Regions from separate parts of the Homo sapiens genome. Here region 1 is linked to region 2. The links come from fine-mapping of genetic effects on gene expression. A gene starts in region 2. The other region holds a variant in brackets. All regions are shown on one strand. Distances are from middle to middle. Region 1 has its middle 9.0 kb from the start of RAB9A. Region 2 holds the start of TCEANC (transcription elongation factor A N-terminal and central domain containing).

Region 1 (2,816 bases), 27 kb after region 2:
CTTCACAGAATTGGAAAAAACCACTTTAAAGTTCATATGGAAACAAAAAAGAGCCTGCATTGCCAAGGCAATCCTAAGCCAAAAGAACAAAGCTGGAGGCATCACGCTACCTGACTTCAAACTATATTACAAGGCTACAGTGACCAAAACAGCATGGTACTGGTACCAAAACAGAGTTATAGACCAATGGAACAGGACAGAGCCCTCAGAAATAATACCACACATCTACAACCATCCGGTCTTTGACAAACCTGACAAAAACGAGAAATGGGGAAAGGATTCCCTATTTAATAAATGGTGCTGGGAAAACGGGCTAGCCATATGTAGAAACCTGAAACTGGATCCCTTCCTTACACCTTATACAAAATTAATTCAAGATGGATTAAAGGCTTAAATGTTAGACCTAAAACCATAAAAACCCTAGAAGAAAACCTAGGCAATACCATTCAGGACATAGGCAAGGACTTCATGTCTAAAACACCAAAAGCAATGGCAACAAAAGCCAAAATTGACAAATGGGATCTAATTAAACTAAAGAGCTTCTGCACAGCAAAAGAAACTACCATCAGAGTGAACAGGCAACCTACAGAATGGGAGAAAATTTTTCCAATCTACCCATCTGACAAAGGGCCAACATCCAGAATCTACAAAGAACTTAAACAAATTTACAAGAAAAAATCAAACAATCCCATCAAAAAGTGGGCAAAGGATATGAACAGACACTTCTCAAAAGAAGACATTTATGCAGCCAACAGACACATGACAAAATGTGTATCATCACTGGCCATCAGAGAAATGCAAATTAAAACCACAACGAGATACCATCTCACACCAGTTAGAATGGCGGTCATTAAAAAGTCAGGAAACCACAGGTACTGGAGAGGATGTGGAGAAATAGGAACACTTTTACACTGTTGGTAGGACTGTAAAGTAGTTCAACCATTGTGGAAGACAGTGTGGCAATTCCTCAAGGATCTAGAACTAGAAATACCATTAGACCCAGCCATCCCATTACTGGGTATATACCCACAGGAGTATAAATCATGCTGCTATAAAGACACATGCACATGTATATTTATTGCAGCACTATTCACAATAGCAAAGACTTGGAACCAACCCAAATGTCCATCAATGATAGACTAGATTAAGAAAATGTCGCACATATACACCATGGAATACTATGCAGCCATGAAAAAGGATGCGTTCATGTCCTTTGTAGGGACATGGATGAAGCTGGAAACCATCATTCTGAGCCAACTATCACAAGGACAGAAAACCAAACACCGCATGTTCTCACTCATAGGTGGGAATTGAACAATGAGAACACTTGGACAGAGGTTGGGGAACATCATACACCAGGGCCTGTCATGGGGTGGGGAGAGTGGGGAGCGATAGCATTAGGAGATATACCTAATGTAAATGAAGAGTTAATGGGTGCAGCACACCAACATGGCACATGTATAC[G/A]TATGTAACAAACCTGCGTGTTGTGCACATGTACCCTAGAACTTAAAGTATAATTTAAAAAAAAAAGCCCTGAGTCATAACAGTCTGTGTTAGATTGTATTCTTGTTCAAATATTTGATGACCCTCCCGGTGGGACCATTGTAGGATACCACATCACTCAGATCAGGCTTTTCCATGTGATTTGCAATGTCCCTCTCTTTAGGAAGATTATACATCACGATGTGTGACTTGCTTTGGTGAACATCATATGAGGGGAGATGATGAACATCACTTCTGTGTGGAAGCTTCAAGAGCCAGCAGGGGTTTTATTTTTGGTCTCTTTTCTCTCAACCAGTGATACCTGCAATATATCAGACAGAAGCTGATCCATTAGCTCAGGTTCGTCAGGTCCAGAGGGAAGATGACATGGACGGGAACCACAGCTGACCCATAATGGACATTAAGGTGAGAAATAAATCTTTGTTTTTATAAGCCACTGAGGTTTGTGGAGGTCATTTTTTACCACAGCGTAACTTAGCCTAAGCTGACAGATAAATAAGTTTTAAGAGAGATAGAATTCCATTTACCTGCATTTATATTATGAATCCCAGTAAGCTTAGACTAGATAATCTATAAGACATCTACTTCTTCTAACTTAGAAAAGGAATTTATTCAGGGAGATATTAAGTAGCTCTTAGAGGCAAGGCTGAAGTTTGGAGTGTGGGCAGGCACCAAAGGGAATCCACGAGGCTGGAGCTGCAGCCATGGCCGGAACGTGAATGACCTGATTAAGATGCTGTCACTGTTAGGTACTGGAAACTGCCACTGGCATTCTGGACACTAGCACCAATGGTGGTCACTAGATACTAGAGGGTACCACTACCTGTGCCAGAATGAACCCTGAACTAATGCAGCATCTCTTTGTTGCTTGCCCAAGACTCAGCTCTTCAAAGAGAGTATCTGATTGGCTAGTCTTGGGTCTCGTTTCTGTATTTTTGTTGTCAGGGTACTGGAAGAGCAAGTGTCTCTCCATTGGGACTTTTATAATGAAAAGACTCACAAGATAGTTGGTTTCTTAAGTGTCGGAAGGACTTTCAGATGCTAACCAAACCGCATCCCCTACAAAAGACAAATATCCCCCACAAACTTAGAAGATAAGCAAACTTGACTGGGCGCAGTGGCTCACTCTTATAATCCCAGCGCTTTGGGAGGCCGAGGTGGGCAGATCACCTGATGTCAGGAGTTCAAGACCAGCCTGGCCAACATGGTGAAACTCTGTCTCTACTAAAAATACAAAAATTAACCAGACGTGGTGGTGCACGCCTGTAATCCCAGCTACTCGGGAGGCTGAAGCGGGAGAATCGCTTGAACCC
Region 2 (2,816 bases):
CTGGAGTGCAATGGCTCGATCTCAGCTCACTGCAACCTCCGCCTCCCGGGTTCAAGCGATTCTCCTGCCTCAGCCTCCCAAGTAGCTGGGATTACAAGCACGTGCCACCACGCCTGGCTAATTTTTTGTATTTTTAGTAGAGACGGGGTTTCACCGTGTTAGCCAGGATGGTCTCGATCTCCTGACCTCATGATCCGCCTGCCTCGACCTCCCAAAGTGCTGGGATTACAGGCATGAGCCACCACGCCCAGCCAAATAATTTTTTCTTTAAAAAGGTATTATATAATCCTTAAACATTTTAGCCCTATAATAGACAGCAAGAAAAAAGTAACCCCTGACAGCTCTGAGCTGCCCCGGCAGTCACAGCTGGGCCTTGGTGCTGCGTGGAACATAAATACTTCACAGAACACCATCAGACGTGGCCACTCTTTGACCAGATGGATCAAGACAAAAACAAGACTCCTTCGTAATCACGTGGGAATGCTGAAAAAACGTAAACATTGTCCAAACCACAAAAATGACCAAACATCCCCTATCCCAGTTAATGAGTCACTGGTCTTGTCTCCCCTCCTTTTAGGTAAGATTTATTATGATACTTAATCATACAATCGCCCTCCTTCCTGCCAGCACCCAGTCCAGAGTATTGGATTGGATACTCTGTTTCCCTGAACCTTTCCCCAAATTACCTTGGGGTAAGGCATCAGCAAAGGAGGCTGTCACATTCGTTCAACCATCACTGTGCTTTTACTGGCCCTTTGCAGGCAAAGAATGAGAATATGCACAGATGAGAAGTCCAGGATGCACAAGACCACTCAATTAACATTTACTACTTTCATATCAACTGATGCATGCTAGGATGCTAAAAACACTTTTTGAATTAATTACTGCGTTAAATAGATTCACATTTATGTCTACAGTTATGTGAACATCTAGCTGAGCACTGTCTTGACTGTCCTGAGTAGAAGCAGAAAAGATAAGTTGTAAAGTACATCAACAAACTTTGCTGCTAAAAAACGAAAGTGCAGTTTCTTTCTCTCGGGCCCGGGGCGGGGCCATGGCTCCTCCTCTAGGAAGCCGCGCGAGCGCAGTCCCACGGCAGCCATTTCCCTAGCGCGCATGCACTGGGTCCCAGGACCACGTGCGCCGGCCTGTGGGCTTGGATTGGCTGAGCCTTGACGTTGTCCCAGTCCCGGTGATCGGAAGTTCTCCGTGGGCACTGGGCGGCTGAAGGCTCCGGAACTGCGCCTGCGCTTTTCGGTGAGTCATGCTTCAGGTTTGCCAGGGCCTGTGTCCCGCAAAAAGGCGAGCCCTTATTCCCAGCGGAAGCCCACCCCGGCTCGCGGCAGCTTTCCGGTGCGCCCTGGGCGGCGTAGATCCGAAGGTGCTCGCACCCCCGCCCCTTCCTCTCCGACTGTCGAGGTCGCCAGAGTGGGCTGAACCCTCGGGACTGTCGCTGTTTGTGTGCTGGGTGCCGGGCCGTCATCCCAAGATGATTAGCGGCAGGCTTTGCATGTTGCTCGACCCCACCCACCGGAACTCGAACCCGGGCTAGACCGGGCAGTTGGGCTGGTCCCTTCCTCTCGCTGCACCTTTACTAGGGGTCACCATTAAGGGAAATGGTCCTAGTGCAGTGCTGAGTGGCTGTTCAGTAACCGCTACACCGCTGCCAACATTTGGCATCGTTTCTCTCCATAGAGGGCGGGGCTCCCTGTGAAGCTGGGGAGCTGTTAAGTGGGTTAGGGCTAGAAAGTTACAGTTTCTCTTTAGGCTTTAAAGAGATCTAAAGATCTGAACAGATCTAGGTTATTTTTGACTTGTTACAAACTTCTGGAAACATTGTTTCCAGACCTTTCCTCTCGTTCTTCTCAGGGTTTAGGCCATTTTTGTGCAGATGTGTGCACCTTGCTTACTATAATATTAGCTAATCTTTATAAGTTTTTATATGGATCCAATACCATATTTCGTGCCTACTTTTCCTGGCACTGTATACACTTTTTGGTATAGGTATGCACCTAAGCAAGCATTATCCATATTAGCATCAGTTCTAGAACCGTGGCGTCCCAATAATGATAGCCATTAGTTACATAAGGCTTGATCACTTGAAATGTGGCTAGTCCGAATTGAGATGTGCTGTAAGTGTAAGACACAGTGAATTTTCGAGAATTAGCATGAAAAAGAATGTAAAATATCTCAATTTGTTTATATTAATCACATGTTGAAATGACTATTCTGGATACACTGGGTTAAATAAAATGTATAATTAATTTCACCAATTTTTATTTTTTAACATGACTACTGGAAAATTTTAAATCATATTTGTGGTTTACATGTTATATATATGTTGCACAGCCCTGCTCTAGAAAAGGGTCAACAAACTATGGCCTGCAGCCAAATCCAGCCTGCCTGTTTTTGTAAACAAGTGTTACCAGAGCAAGATCATGCCTATCCATTTATGTTATTTTCTGTATCTGCTGTTGCTGCTACAATAGCAGCAGAGTTGAGTAGTCCATAGAGATTGTATGGCCTACAAAGCCTAGAATATATACCTTCTGATCTTTAACAGAAAAAGTGTGCTGACCCCCTGCTGTAGAACAATGCCTGGTTTGGTAGATATTTTTAAGCCTTTTAATTGTAGATTCACATCCTATTATTCACACTTACTGTGTGACAGCCATAGTTCAAAGCACTTTATCAAGACTTTCATTTAATTCTCATTAATCCTAGGATGTTGGATTTCTCCCATTTTGTAGATGAGGAAATTGAGGCACAGAATGGTCAAGAAACTTATCCAACTTGCTCAGCACCCCTCACTTCTG

Evidence for each region. PIP is the estimated chance that this variant, and not a neighbour inherited with it, causes the effect.
Region 1: its variant is the best candidate, but not a certain one, in a credible set for the expression of TCEANC in tibial artery (GTEx, PIP 0.55).

The regions. Positions count from the first base shown.
Region 1 is chrX:13,678,691-13,681,506 of GRCh38, forward strand. No RefSeq gene overlaps it. Among named protein-coding and RNA genes, the nearest start is that of RAB9A, 9.0 kb to the right of the region's middle. The variant G/A (reference allele first, on the strand shown) is at 1,465.
Region 2 is chrX:13,651,932-13,654,747 of GRCh38, forward strand. It overlaps TCEANC (transcription elongation factor A N-terminal and central domain containing), which reads left to right and starts at 1,210. Exons shown (of 5, transcript NM_001297563.2): 1 at 1,210-1,257. LOC107985657 (a long non-coding RNA gene) reads right to left here and starts at 1,508. Exons shown (of 1, transcript NR_171573.1): 1 at 566-1,508. RefSeq lists enhancers at 893-1,082, 1,343-1,432 and a silencer at 1,011-1,322.